Linked DNA regions of Homo sapiens. The protein of the gene in region 2 interacts with the protein of the main gene of each other region in a biochemical or structural test. Each region holds a gene or a part of one and is shown on either strand. Other genes may lie near its edges.

The links.
Region 1: of the proteins of CRTC1 (region 2) and MAP3K1, one has a biochemical effect on the other in vitro, tested with the Homo sapiens proteins (one study listed by BioGRID).

The regions. Positions count from the first base shown.
Region 1 is NC_000005.10:56,873,854-56,881,707, reverse strand, and holds part of MAP3K1 (mitogen-activated protein kinase kinase kinase 1), read right to left. Parts: intron 6,677-7,854; coding exon 6,398-6,676; intron 2,729-6,397; coding exon 2,607-2,728; intron 998-2,606; coding exon 906-997; intron 626-905; coding exon 436-625; intron 139-435; coding exon 1-138. UniProt on the Homo sapiens protein: Component of a protein kinase signal transduction cascade. Activates the ERK and JNK kinase pathways by phosphorylation of MAP2K1 and MAP2K4. May phosphorylate the MAPK8/JNK1 kinase.
Region 2 is NC_000019.10:18,679,187-18,687,073, reverse strand, and holds the start of CRTC1 (CREB-regulated transcription coactivator 1), read right to left. Parts: upstream 3,395-7,887; 5' UTR 3,372-3,394; coding exon 3,246-3,371; intron 1-3,245. UniProt on the Homo sapiens protein: Transcriptional coactivator for CREB1 which activates transcription through both consensus and variant cAMP response element (CRE) sites.

The DNA.
Region 1 (7,854 bases), on a different chromosome or scaffold from region 2:
TTTGAAAACACATGGGGTACTGTAGTAACCATTCTTGCAGAACTCAAGTAGATCCTTCTGGAAAGTTTGCCAACCATTGAGTGGGAATTATCAATGGACTGCAAAGCAAAGGTTAAGAGGGACAGCAGCTTCTTATACCTGAAAGAAAAAAACATTCATTACCATATAAGTTCCAATTACTGAAAAATACATGGAAACTTAAAAAATGGTAGTAATTTACAGCATGTATACTTCAAAAACCATTTCAGCATAAAGTATCTATGAATTTTTAATTAAAGAGCCCAGACTTTGGGTTTTCATATGTCAATCAAATATTAAGGTATCAGCAACCTATTCATGCTCTGAGTCTTTCAAAAATCTAAAATGTGTCATTCTTGAGGAGGGTGTAGGGAGGGTAGGAAGATACAAGTAATACATTTTCAGAAGAAAAATTACCTGATTTCAACAGGCTCAGCTTGTGAAACATCAGTACTGACAATATGAGGATAAAATTCAGCAGGAAATTCCAACAACAGTCTATCTATAAGACAAAGGCGGCCAAGAAGTTCTTGCCAATTGTTTGATTCAGTTTGGTTTCCAAGAATACAATTTAAGACATAATCAACACCACCAATACCAATGGATCCTACAAAAAGGAAAGTAAAAATAAATGATTAAAAAATAGTGATATTAAAATCTAAAACAAGACATGATTAAATGGTGTAAGGCCAACAAAAATATTCTGAACTATTTTAAAGAATTTCTCTCTCAGAGTAATTCACATTTCTAACTGTAACACAGTGAATCAATTTATAAAATTACTTCAAAATCCTGTAAACTGCCTCATGAGAGATTATGAGATTAGACAAGGCTGCTCAGGAACATGATAAAATATGCTATATTCCTTTTAAGTGAAAAGTTATTACCAGCTTTTAGTATTTCTCTGCCAACTGCCAACTCTCCTGCTTGGCCTTTGCACAGTTCCAACAGTGTTGATATGGACAGCTGACTTGTGCGGCTAAAAACAAAGGAAAAGCAACATCAATCCTGGATCTTGGCTAAAACACTATACAATATTAGAGGAGTAATGTAATGCCTTGTGAAAAAGTGGAGAAATAATGTTTTCAGGAGTGTTTACTTTTCCACCACTAAAATCATATTAACAATGTCACCATAAGTAGTAATATTCATTTATTAGGTCTAATTTCGTAAATTTAACATATCCCCTATGTTAAGCACAGAATTTTCAACAATGGCTCTTTGCAAGTACTGATTTAAATACCAAATCAGATAAAAGTCTTATATTTTGTTAAAAGAAAAAACAAGGACCTTGATATTTTGATTTCTGAACTTTCACTAAGAAGCTCTTGAATTAAAAACAAAACCTTCCTATCCAAAAACCCTCCATTTCCTTACATAGCCAAAATGAGGTCTGAATATTATAAAATCTCTCTACAGTATTTCTTATGTTCAGTCATTCAGGTGACCAGGTAAACAACCTAAGTTTGGAGTTTCAAAAAGTGAGCAGCATAACAAATACCATGAGAACACTGAATTCTCAGAAATATACCTATTCTAATATTTAAAAATGACATTTTTCCTATGCATTTTGCAAATTACTTGTTAATTTGCAATATTTTACAGATATACAATGTTTTCTCTAAGCAACAAGGAAACATCCAATATTTTCAATCTATAGAGAAAACAATAGAGGCAAAAGACAGACTTCATGATATGAGAAATTCGTTAAAGGTAGGTACCTAATTTTTGAGATCCTGTGCAAACTAAGTCATTATGACTTGCAGAGGAAGAGAAAGGTTGTACTGAGAGAACTCTAAATGGGTGAAATGGAAGAGGCAACAGAAGGGAGATTCAACACTTCTTGCTAACCAAGATCTGCTGGGATAGAAAGAAATAGGAACTACCAAATAACTGTTCACAGTAGCTGTGATTATTAAATGAAAATTGATCTTTTCCTCCTATTTTATGGAAGGGGAAAATAAAAGAGAACCATTGGTCTGAAAAAAGCATGGCTTGTACTCATCTTTACTGTCATTGTACCTCAATTCTCTACTTCATATTTTTCTTTCCAGTTAGGGTTATTCTTGTTCCCTGTCAATTTTTAAGGATATTGCAGGAATATAAAAAATCTAAAAATTTTTTGACAAAACTGTCATAAGTAGAGTAAAATTCCACTACACTGAAAATGAGATGGATTTGTTAATTTTTTATCCTGATAATAAGGCATATGCAGGTGTAATGATCTTACTGGTTCCTATTCTGTGTAACCCATACTCTAATATGAGATTATAACTTATAGATATAAATGTCAACTACTGTTCTTATCGACTGGTCTTCAGATTATGAATGTTACTAAAGAGAGTAAATCACAATACAATAATGTGGAGATCCATGCAGTTTGTTTGCCTGGCTTTTACTTGCCAGTAGTTCTTTCCGCCAGTCCTTAAGAGCTTTATGCTGCATTTTCATTTTAAATCTCACATTAAAAGACAATGTTCAAAGACTCATTTAATAAAATGTATCAGATATTCACACTAGGTGTGAGGCTTGCTGCGAGGCACTTTTAAGACAAGAGGGTTTGAAGTGATTCATCAATAAAGCCTTACCTATTGGCATCTGCACATTTGACTAGGATGGTGTCTACAACTGGCTGGAGAAGTCTCTGAAGTTTGATTCTTTCCGCTAAACTGTGGCAAGGAGTATATACCAGCATGGCTCTCAATGTTTTCTAAGGAAAAAAATCTGAAGGTCAGTTTATGTACACTTAAAAAGCATCAGAGATAATGGCCTAATTTGAGACAATTTGAGCAACAAAATAAGTAGACAGGAATGGATTATAACCCATAGAATAAAATAAGAATTCCATGCTTCTGTAATAATACAACTAACTAACAAAATAAATGAATGGGGCAGGAAGGAATTTTCTGAACTCTTTTCTCTGCAATTTTTAAAAGTCTGAATTCATTTCAAGATGAAAAGTTAAAAAAAATTATTTTAAAAAAGAAAATGAGAACAGGCGCCAACCTGAAAGAGCTCCCAATGGTCAAGGCTGGAATAATTAGAGCAACAAAACAAATGATGGTAGTACTGGGTTGCAACCCACAGAACAAAATGAATACCCAGGAGCCTACACCAATACAAATTAAAAATTGAATAGGTATATAAACAGAGAAGCTCTTCTTTATAGAATAATTCCAATTAATTAATGTAGAAGGAATGAGGAAAATAGAAAATCACCACTAGAACACCATTTTTTAAATTATACTTTAGTTGTGGGGTACATGTGCAGAACGTGCAGGTTTGTTACATAGGTACACACATGCCATGGTGGTTTGCTGCATCCATCGACCCGTCATCTACATTAGGTATTTCTTGTAATGCTATCCCTCCTCTACCTCCCGACCCCCGACAGACTCCAGTGTGTGATGCTCCCCTCCCTGTGCCCAAGAGAGCACCATTTTTAATGGTGTAGTAATAACTGCTATAGGCAAGATCCACAAATGCTTTTAAAATCAGTGGACAAAATTTTGAGGTGAAATAGGGTATTTGCATAATCTCAAAGTAACTCTCACAAGATATTTAGGAATATTAACTTTACAGCAGGGAAACTTGGTAGACATTACCTTAACTGACAGCATCACCAATAATAAAAGCCATGGGCATATGTACCCACTGATATGATGCACTAAGAAAGGCCTGTCACCTCTGTGGCGTTCTTGTGAAAAATACGTAACTTCCATCTAATCATGAGAAAACATCAGATAAACCCAAATTGAGGGATATTCTACAAAATAACTGGCCAGTAAACTTTGAAAGTATCTGTCAAGGTCATTAAAAACCAGGAAAGGCTGAGGAACTGTCATGGATGAGAAGACATTAAGGGGACATGGTGACTAAATGCACTGTGGGATCCTGGATTGGATCCTGGAACAGAAAAAAGACAACAGCAGAAAAACTGGTGAAATCTGAATAAAGTCTGCAGTTTAGCTATGAAGGGCACTGTTGGGCAACTGAAGAGATTTGAGTATGAACTTTATAGTACAAAACAGTATTGTGATTAATGTTAATGTGCTGACTGTATATGGAAGAATAAATGGAATTATGTATTTGGTTTTAAGAGACACATATTTAAGTGTCATGATGCTGCAAAAAACTCTCAAACGATTCAGCAAAAAAAAAAAAAAAAATTATATATGCAGAGGGAGGGAGAGGAAAAAAAGGAAGAGACAGAGGAAGGGGAGATAAGAGAAAGGGAAAGGGTGAGCCTTAACAGCAGGAGCCATTTCTGCCTCCATGGAGCCTGGTATCCTTTATACAATCTTTGTGCTCTAGGATCTCATAAGCTAGTTGGGAAACAGTCTGAACTTAAGAAGAAACAACCACAACAGTAAGGCAGTTACGGTGTGTACAAAAAGAGTAACACAGCAAAGGCTTTGCAGAAAAGGAACTAGCAAAAAGAGGATTTTATTTAGTCAAGTATGCCTGAAGGTTTGTGTTGGAAAATACTAAGTAAGAGGCAAAATATTGGGCCAATTGGTCTTTATTCTATAGTATGCTGGTCCCTCCAGATGCTACATGAAAAAACAAGGTGTAGCAAAATAACTCTGGGAAACAATGCATTCTATCCTTTGATCCTTTAGGTTCACAATGTACATTAGCTTACTGAAGGATCCTAGAAGCCTTTCAGTCAACAGACCTAGTTATCCTTGTGTAATCCAGTGTTCACCAATCTTAACTGAATACGGGATTCTTTCTTCAGGGAACTTTTCACAACCCTGCCAAACTTCCACAGAATATGCTTTAGGAATGTCAAAGAAACAGAAACCTCTAAAGGTTTCTAAATGATTTGGGGGATAATCCAAGTTGTGTTTAAGAAATAATGATAACTATTATATAATATTAAATGTTCTTACAATGTGCCAGGCATATGGTTGAAAGTTTCTACATAATCTAATTTCAAACCTAAAAGGTATTTTCATTATTTTATGGGTGAGAAAACTGAAGTTTATTTAAGAGAGGTTAAGTAACCTTCATAAAGCCATCGTGCTAGTAAAAGGGAGAACCAGAATTTGAATCCAGGTCTGTCTCTATGATCTTGATCATGTGTTCAGATTGCCTAGGCTAGTCCAACTTTAACCAGCACATTATGCAAGCATTGTGGTTGGAATGATAAATTATGAGATCACTCAATTGTGACTCCAAACCCATGTTCGTAACTGTCATGCTGTATTACCTGTCAAGAAGATTCATTAGGCCCAATCGGTAGAGGATGCATTAGAAAAAGACTGAGGGAGGAAGCCTACAGACTGCTCATGAATTTTAAGAACAGACTAGATAAGAATTAAAGTAGTGATTCTGAATTGGGGGCAGTTTTGACCACTGGAGACATTTGGCAATGCCTGGAGACATTCTTGGTTGTCATAACTGGGGGCATGATCGGGTGGGGGTGGGTTTGCTCCTGGTATCTAATGGGTAGAGGCCAGAGATGCTGCCACAGTACACACATGACAACATCCCTGGCCCTCCCCCCACCCTCCAACAAATAATTATCTAACAAATGTTAATAGTACTGAGGCTGAGAAGCCCTAAAGAGACATATACGCAGAATGGAGAAAGTCCAGTTAGTCTCCTAAATTACCTCCTTGTCACTCTATTCCACCCATGAAAGAACTTTTAACAGGTTAAACTGGAAAACAACTCAATGATCTATGTCATGGAACCCTTTTCTTTGAAAAGGCTTTTGAATCTCCACATGACAATGTTTATTAAAAATCAATCAAAATGTTTATTAAAAACATATCTTCCTTAATATCTGATAAATTTTTTAAAAAATCAGAATAACGTTGATGACTCTGCCATCCCAAAAAGCATTTTTAATTTGGTCATGTATAAGGTATCTGCTCAGAAAAATGTACAGATATGAACAGCAAGACATTAAAAAAATCTTTAAAAATTAGCAAGCTTGTCTAGCTCACCCTATTTGTTGTTGTTCTGTTTTGTTTTGTTTTGTTTTAGGCTTTAGCAGCCTGAAGCCATGGTTTTTAGTCTGTCTCTAGTGGTAAGTGGAAAAGGAGGATGAGGAAGGAGCTTTACTGGCCCAAACAGAAACTAAGAAACCATGACTATATTCTCTCCCTTGGATACCCCTGCAAAGCCTTTAAAACAATGAAACTAAAAAGTAAAACAGTTATATAAGAAACCTTGGACATCATAAAAATCAGTAAAATTCAAATAAACAAAACAAAAGCTGTAATTTCCTGGAATTATGGAATAAAAATAAAATTTGGATTTTCCAAAATTAGGTAAAGTAGCTTTATTGTATCTTAAAAACACTATCTACGAACCATCAAAAAACCCCAAACCCATAATGATATGATTATGGAATAAAGCTACTTACTAAAGCAGCAACGTACACTTTGTAGACAGGGTCAGCACAGACCATTGACAGAACGCTGCAGCATGCCTCCACCACATCTCCTGAGATACTGGTCTGGGAAGACCCACTGGTGGCTCCCCCACTCGGGCTGCTTCCACTGCTGCCCCCAGAATTTCCAGTGCTCTCCCCATTTGCCAACAGCAGGGCCCCACTGACATCATGGGAAAGACGCCTGAGGGCCATCTCTCTCACATTCCAGTTTCTAGAAAATAAGCAGCCAACGAGTTCCATTCCAAACACCTGTATCAAACACACACGATGAATTCAATGTAAAGAAAAGCTTATGGACCCAGAGCATTTTGAGTTTAGCATCATTTTTGATTACTACGTAAAAACTGGACATTTCTGAAATCTTTACCATCCTTCACAACTTCAAATATATCCAGCCACTTAAGCATCATAAGGAAGAATTTTATACTCAAGTTTAACTGATAATTATCCAAAGTCATTAATATTTATTAGCTCAGGTAAAATTAATAATAAGCTCCATTAAGTCACTAGATGGCTATACATACATTCTATGCCTCTACTGTCCCACATGCTTACCAAAACGCCAAAAAACTGTGAAAACCTCAACTCTGTATTCATATTAAGGTAGTTTAAAGAGAAAAACTGGAGCAAGATTAAGAAAACAAACAAACAAACAAAAAACAAATCAAAAAAAGCACCAGGAGAAGGTTTCAAGAGATATAGAGTATTTCTCTTACAGACAAGAGCAATAAGCAAAACACATTTAATTGGTTTTTGTCTGTATAAAAAGGTTTAAAAAACTAGACAAAACAGGTAGGACTGTAAAACGAATGGAGTGGACAAATCAAACAACTGAAGAAAAAATGCTTGTGTTCGAGTAAGCAAAGGATAAATGTAGACGTAGAATTATAGTATATGCTGTTATCGTCGTCAATACCATGCCCCAAAAGCCAGAGTCCCTACAGTGAGGAAAGGGTGAATGGTCTTGACATTATGGGCCAATTAGCTAAAAGTAAGCTTAATACCTAAGATAATTCATTATGTGAAAAATGCCTAAATATTAAAGATGAATAAACACAACTTTTGAAAAACAGATCATAACATACTTATTTACATATGTTTTGTTATAAAGGGATATTATGGGAGAATGAACCAACTAGAATATAGTGAGCTTCTGGTACTGTTAAGTAGTGTACCACTACCTATGTTTTAACTGTCTTACCTAACATGCTTAATAAAAAGCTAGGAATGTAGAGCCTAGTCTGACCTAAAGCTTAGGCAAAACAAACTAGACCATATGCTTGAAAGAATGAACTCTAACAGCTCAGAATCAACTTGAGAGTTCTTTGATGGGTCATGAAAGGGCAGGTGAGGGCCTATGTTCATTAATAGTTCATTAAATTTCATTAATGAACTAGGTACAAGAATGTGTTTAATATTTTTGCAGA
Region 2 (7,887 bases):
ACTGCACTCCAGCCTGGGCAACAGAGCAAGAGTCTATCTCAAAAAAAAAAAAAAAAAAAAAAGTTTCTCAGTCTTGGCACTGCCGACATCTGGGGCCAGATTATTCCACACGATGGGGCCATCCTGTGCACTACATGTAGGGGGTTGGGCAGCATCCCAGCCTCCACCCACCAGATGCTAGAAGCACTCCCTAATCATGATGACCCAAAATGTCTCCAGACATCACCAAGTGTCCCCTGGGGGGCAGAATCACCCCCTGCCCCAGAAAGAGAACAATGCTTTGTGTCTAAAAATCTAGTGTGAACTCACCTCTGCCCAGAGCCCATGCTCCCCTGACCCCAGGTGATGAGGAAGATGGGAAATGGTTTCCAGGGCTGAAAGAACTGCCACCTGCATATCTTCAGAATCTTGTTTTTGTTTTTGTTTTGAGATGGAGTCTCACTCTGTTGCCAAGGCTGGAGTACAGTGACACAATCTCAGCTCACTGCAACCTCCACTTCCCAGGTTCAAGCGATTCTTCTGTCTAAGCCTCCCGAGTAGCTGGGATTACAGGCATGTGCCACCACACCCGACTAATTTTTGTATTTTTAGTGGAGACGGGTTTCACCATGTTGGCCAGGCTGGTCTCGAACTCCTGACCTCAGGTCATCCACTCACCTTGGCCTCCCAAAGTGCTGGGATTACAAGTGTGAGCCACTGCACTTGGCCTCAGAATTTTTCTAAATTCATTGACTGATGAATGGATAAACAAATACAATATATCCATACAACGGAATATTACTTGACCCTAAAAAGGAACGAAGCACTGATCCATGATACTACAGAGATGAACCTTGAAAACATGACGCTGAGTGAAAGATGCCAGTCACAAAAGGCCACGTGTTGTGTGATTCCATTTATATAAAATGCCCAGAATAGGAAAACCCACAGAGACAGAAGACAGCTTAGTGCTTGCCAGGGGCTAGGGGAGGGGGAATGGGGAGTGACTGTTAATGGGGACGGGGTTTCTTTCTGGGTGGATAAAAAATGTTCTGGAATTACAAAATAGGGGTGGTTGCACAACTCTGTGAATATACTAAAAACCACCAAACTGTACACTTTAAACAAGTAAATTGTATGATGTGTGAATCATATCTCAATAAAGCTATTATTTTAAAGAGATGTTTTCAACAACAATAATCTATTTCCAATCCCACGCAGAAACTGGACTTCTAATCAGAATGACACCCATGAACCTACTGTGACCCCTTTCTTCCGGTCACACTGCAAACATTTGACAACAACTGCATGCCAGCACACACCATGTGCTGGAGACAAAAAGAAGTGGCCACTCCTGCCTCAGAAGCCCTGATATGTGGGGGACACTCACGTGGAAGGATGCTCAAGTTGCACACTTTCTTCTTATTTTCTTTTTTTGAAATGGAGTTTCACTCTTGTCACCCAGGCTGGAGTACAGTAACATGATCTCGGCTCACTGCAACCTCCACCTCCCAGGTTCAAGTGATTCTCCCACCTCAACCTCCCCAGTAGCTGGGATTACAGGTAGCTACCACCACGTCCGGCTAATTTTTATATTTTTAGTACAGACAGGGTTTCACCACGTTGGCCAGGCTGGTCTCGAACTCCTAACCTCAGGTGATCCACTGCCTCAGCCTTCCAAAGTGCTGGGATTACAGGCATGAGCCACCACACCTGGCCATTTTCTTATTTTTTTTTCATTCATTCATTCACCAGCCATCTCTTTCTCTACATCCTGAGCAAGAATGTAGCTGCTTGGAGCTGGGAGGACAGATGTGGCACACTCACCGAGCATGCCTAAAGCAGTACCTGGGTGACAGTGAGCTCCCAATCATTACCAACACAGAAATGAAGACACAAATCCTAGTCTATAAGGTCACAATCTCTCAGAGAAACAAACAACTAGTTACAAAGTAACACAGACTGAAAGTGCTACCTAAGGAATCAGAGACTGAGGTTAAGTCTACCTGAGCCAGTCACATCAGTGGCTGAATCTGGAAACCAGGGATACGAGCATCTGCAAAGCCCACCCAAACCCTCCCCAAGGCCCCAGGATGCAGGAGAGAGGTCTCACCACACTGCAAGAACAAAGTGGAGATTCAGCATCACCTTTGCAGAGTGTGCTCACCACCCTGCCCCAAGAGGAAGGTCTTGCTAGAATGCCTGACAAGAAACTGAGGCCTGAGGAACTCGGGTGCCTTGCCGTGCTCAGACACCAGCCCCAAGCCCCTGCTCCTGGCCCACAGCAACTTCCCAGGTGAGATTTGCAGGGTATCTGCTCTGCCAGACAGGAGCCTGGCAGAACCTGGCCTGCCCCTGCACACCAAATGCGCCCAGCCACCTGAGGCAGACCTGGCCCTCCACCCTGGTCCTGAGAGGGCAGGGGCTGTGGTCAGCATCCCCTGTTCCACTGGGAGGAACATCACCTGGCCCCCACCATATGGGCTACATGGAGAAGGGGCAGCTGTCTCCACTCCAAGTTCCAGGACTGAGCACAATCTGCCTTCTTGGCCCCCCTCTGGACCCCCTGGGGGACAGGATCTGACCATTCCCTCAGCTGTCCAAGAGGGAGAGATCCCTGTCCCACCTCAGCTCTGCAAGTGGGGACATCCGTTCCTCCCCCAACACCCAGGGAGTAAAGGCACAGGTAACCATGACGTAGAGACACCGGTCCCCCTCAGGTAGCAAGAATGGGAGGGCATCTGTCCCTCCCAGGTAGCAAGGATGCGGGGGCACTTGCACCCTCACCCCCAGCTACCAATGGTGCTTGCAAGCAGCACCCAGCTCATACACCTGTGTCATCCTGCCCCCCCAGGTAGCAATGATGCGGGGGCACCTGTCCCTTCCAGGTAGTAATAATGTGGGGCACCTGTCCCCCTCGGGTAACAATGATGTAGGGACACCTGTCCCCTGTCAGGTAACGACGAGGTACTAGCACCTGTTCCCTCCTAGTAGTAATGATATAGAGGCCCCTGTCTCCTCCGGGGAGCAGTGATGCAGGGCACCTGTACCCCATCAGGTATGGATTTTGTGGGGTCACCTGTCCCGCCCACGACGCCCGGGGCGTGGGGACACCTGTCCCCCTCGGGCCGTGCCAAGCCCCGCCCCCGCCGCGCGCGCCCCGCCCCCGCCGCGCCCCCCCCCACCCCGCCCCGTGCACGCGCCGGACACGCGCCCCCTCCCTCCCTCCGCCGGCCCTGAAGGGTCGGCGCGGGCAGCCCCCTTACCCGCGCGGCCCGCGTCAGGCTCAGGTCCTTCATGACCTCCTCGAAGGCCGCCGTCTCCTCCGCCTGCTTCTGATTGTGCAGCGCGATCTTCTCGCTGAATTTCCGCGGATTGTTCGAAGTCGCCATCTTCTCGCCGCCACCTCCTCCTCCTCCTCCTCCTCCTCCACCTCCTCGCCCCCCCACTCGCCCGTGCCACCGCGCAAGCGCCGGCTGGGCCCACGGGCGGCGAGCAGTGCGCAGGCGCGCCGGCGGTCGTGAGCGCGGCGCAGGCGCACAGGAGCGGCGCGCGGCGCGGGGGCGAAGGCGCATGCGCGCGCCCAGGCGCGCGCTCGGGGCCCGCGGGAAGGGCGGTGGAGCGCGAGTGGAAATTTCAACGCCGACGCAGTGATCCGCCTCCTGGCCCGCTGGACAGCGGCCTCTGGGCTGTTGGACAAGGACCGCGGATCGGCTGGGGCACTGGAGCCCCCAAGAGGGAGACGGCCTGACCCAGATCCTCCCAATTCACAAGGGTGGGGCCAGGCACCCCCCCCCGCAAGGATTGGTGGCACCCCAAGTTGAACCTGGGTTTGGACTAAGAGCTCTGAAAACAGACTAGGGCGTTGGTCACTCATGCATTCATTCATTCAAGGAATATTTACTGAGCACCTACTATGTGCCAGGCAAACTGGAGTACAGGCGTGAACAAGCAGAGGTGATCCCTGCCCTTATGGAGTGTACAGTCAGAGAGGGGGCAGACATAGCACACAAATAACCAAGAACTTTTCAGATGGAGGTAAATGTGATGCGGTAAATAAGACCAGTGGCCAGCCACAGAACATTAGGGAGGGAGGCTCCTGCAGCCACCACAGACAGGGAGGCGGAAAGTTATCTTAGCTAAGACCTGAACCCTGCAATCGGCTCTCTCAGTCCATAAACCTAGCTGTTGCCCTTAACGACTTTCTTTTTTTTTTTTTTTTTTCCCTTGAGACCGAGTTTTGCCCTTGTCGCCCAGACTGGAATGCAGTGGTGCGATCTCGGCTCACTGCAACCTCCTCCTCCCAGGTTCAAGCCATTCTCCTGCCTCAGCCTCTCCAGTAGCTAGGATTACAGGCAGGCGCCACCACGCCCAGCTAATTTTTTTATTTTCAGTAGAGACTAAAGACCATGTTGGCCAGGCTGGTCTTGAACTCCTGACAGCAGGTGATCCACCCGCCTCGCCCTCCCTAAGTGCTGGGATTACAGGCGTGAGCCACCATGTCCAGCCGACGACTACTTTTTCCCATTCCCTTGCAATGGGCATATTGCTATTCTCTGGATACCTGAGCCCAAAGAACTGGAGTTACAGAGCTTCAGCCTTCCCTCTGCATACTTCTCCAGTCCAGTCTTGTTCAAGGATCTCTATTTTGCAACAAGGTGCTAACAGAAGGGTCCAGAAATCCCATCAAGACTCAGCAGTGAAGGAAGGAGCAGAGACTCCCCCGATGGCAGAGTGGTAAGCCAGGGAAGCAGGAGGGACTCTAACCCTCCCTCCCTCAAGAGAGGGACCCCCAACCACCAATATTGAAAGTTTATATTCAGGAGGCTGCAGGGATTTCAGAGTATGGGCTGGGTGGAAGCTAGGAAGGTCAGCTGGGGGAATTGATGATGGCTCTAATGGCACAACAAGCACACATTTTATTGGACTGAGGATGGCTGGAGGGGATGCTGACATCTTCCAAACATGCTTTGATTCATGCTTTACAACAGGTAATAAAATGCTCATGTTAAATATATATATATATATATCGATTTTCATTTAGAATGCCTTGGATATTGCCACTGCCCTACTTTATCTTTGTTTTGAGACAGAGTCTCACTCTGTCGCCCAGGCTAGAGTGCAGTGGCGCAACCTTGGCTCACTGCAATCTCTGCCTCTCAGGTTCAAGCGATTCTCCTACCTCAGCCTCCCAAGTAGCTGGGATTACAGGCATGCACCATGATGCTCAGCTAATTTTTATGGGATTTTTTTTTTTTTTTTTTTTTTGAGACGGAGTCTCTGTTTCCCAGGCTGGAGTGCAGTGGCACAGACTCAGCTCACTGCAACCTCTGCCTCTGGGGTTTAAGTGATTCTCCTGCCTCAGCCTCCCAAGTAGCTGGAATTACAGGAACCCACCACCACACCCGGCTACTTTTTGTATTTTTAGTAGAGACAGGGTTTCACCGTGTTGGCCAGGCTGGTCTTGAACTTCTGACCTCAGGTGATCCGCCCGCCTCAGCCTCCCAAAGTGCTGGGATTACAGACATGAGCCACCGCACCCGGCCATCTTCCTTCTTGATATGATTTTGCGCACTTTGGTAAGCTCCTATACTTTTTGCCTAACAAGCATATTCCTTCTCTCAACCCCACCCACTCCCTCAACTTTTTAGTGTCAACAACCCTTATTTGGGGAACACTGGTTCTGACTTTCAGTCTGTGAGATGTGAATGGCTGGTCTCACCACTCTCCCACCACACAAACACCCCTCCCTAAGGTGGAAGTCTTGGCCAATCAGCATAGCCCATTGTGCTGGCCATCAAGATTGGTTCAGGCCAGGCTGGGTGTTGTGGCTCATGCCTGTAATCCCAGAACTTGGGAGGCCGAGGCAGGAGGATCATTTGAGCCCAGGAGCTTGAGACCAGCCTGGGCAACATAGCGAGATTTAATCTCCACTAAAAATAAAAAAATTACCTGCGCGTGGTGATGCCTGCTTATAATCCCAGCTACTCAGGAGGCTGAGACAGGAGGATTGCTTGAGCCTGGGAGATGGAGGCTGCAGTGAGCTATGATAATGCACTGCACTCCAGCCTGGGTGACAGAGCAAGACCCTGTCTCAAACAAACAAACAAACAAACAAACAAAAAACAGGCTGGGCGCTGGGTCATGACTGTAATCCCTACACTTTTGGAGGCAGAGGCGGGCAGAACACCTGAGGTCAGGAGTTTGAGACCAGACTGGCCAACATGGTGAAACCCCATCTCGACTAAAAATACAAAAAAAATTAGCCAGACGCGGTGGCACACGCCTGTAATTCCAGCTGCTGGGGAGGCTGAGGCAGGAAAATCACTTGAACCCAGGAGGTGGAGGTTGCAGTGAGCCAAGATAGCGCCACTTCACTCTAGCCTGGGCAACAGAGGGAGACTTTGTCTCAAAAAAAAACAAAAGATTAGTTCAGCTGGGCCAAAAGAGTGGACCCACACAGAGGAAAACAGAACCAGGCCTGGCACGGTGGCTCACAACTGTAATCCCAGCACTTTGGGAGGCCAAGGTGGGTGGATCACTTGAGGTCAGGAGCTTGAGACCAGCCTGACCAACATAGGGAAACTCCATCTCTACTAAAAATACAAAATTAGCTGGGCATGGTGGCACATGCCTCTAATCCCAGCTACTTGGGAGGCTGAGGCAGGAGAACAGCTTGAATCCAGGAGGCAGAGGTTGCAGTGAGCCGAGATCACATTACTGTACTCCAGCCTGAGCTTCTGGATCCAGCCATTCCTGAAGCTAGACTCACCTGCCTTTTAAGTTATGTAGGCCAAAAATTTATTCCCTTTTGTGCTTGTCTATTTGTTTTCTTGTTTGTTTGTTTGTTTGTTTTTTCAGACAGGGTCTCACTTTGTTGCCCAGGCTGGAGTGCAGTGGCATGATCATGCTCACTGAAGCCCCAACCCTTAGGCTCAGGTGATCCCCCCACCTCAGCCTTCCAGGTAGCTGGGACTACAGGTGTGCATCATCATGCCTGGCTAATGTTTTGTGGTTTTTGTAGAGACAGGATTCATCCTGTTGCTCAGGCTGGTCTCAAACTCCTGGGCTCAAGTGATCCGCCCCCCTCAGCCTCCCAAAGTGCTGAGATTACATGTGTGCACCACCGTGCCTGGCCTGCCTAAATCTATTTCAAGTCCTTTTTCTGTTCCTGGTTCTGACTGAGACTGCAGCTTCTGTGAGTCCAATGCGAGACTGGGCCCGCTACATATGTGGCTTCTAGTTCTTTTTTTTTTTTTTTTTTTTTTTAAACAGAGTCTCGCTAGGTCTCCCAGGCTAGAGTGCAGTGGTACGATCTTGGCTCACTGCAACCTCCGCCTCCCAGGTTCAAGTGATTCTCCTGCATCAGCCTCCAGAGTACCTGGGACTACAAGCGTGCGCCACTACGCCCAGCTAATTTTTGTATTTTTAGTAGAGATGGGGTTTCACCATGTTGGCCAGGCTGGTCTCGAACTCCTGACCTCAGATGATACTCCCACCTTGGCATCCCAAAGTGCTGGGGTTATAGGCGTGAGCCACCACGCCTGACCGGCTTCTAGTTCTTGACAGCATCCTGTGAGGTCAGAGAAGAAATAAAGACAGAGAGCAGGGACAGCAGCTGCCCTAGCAACTTATGCACCAAAACTCAGGCCTCACAGCCGACCTCAGCTGCTTTCACACACTGAGTTTTGTAGGCTTTAAATGAAGTTAGCCAGGCGTGGTGGCTCACGCCTGTAATCCCAGCACTTTGGGAGGCTGAGGCGGGCGGCTCACCTGAGGTCAGGAGTTTGAGACCAGCCTGACCAACATGGAGAAACCCCGTCTCTACTAAAAATACAATATTAGCCGGGCGTGGTGGCACATGCCTGTAATCTCAGCTACTCGGGAGGCTGAGGCAAGAGAATCGCT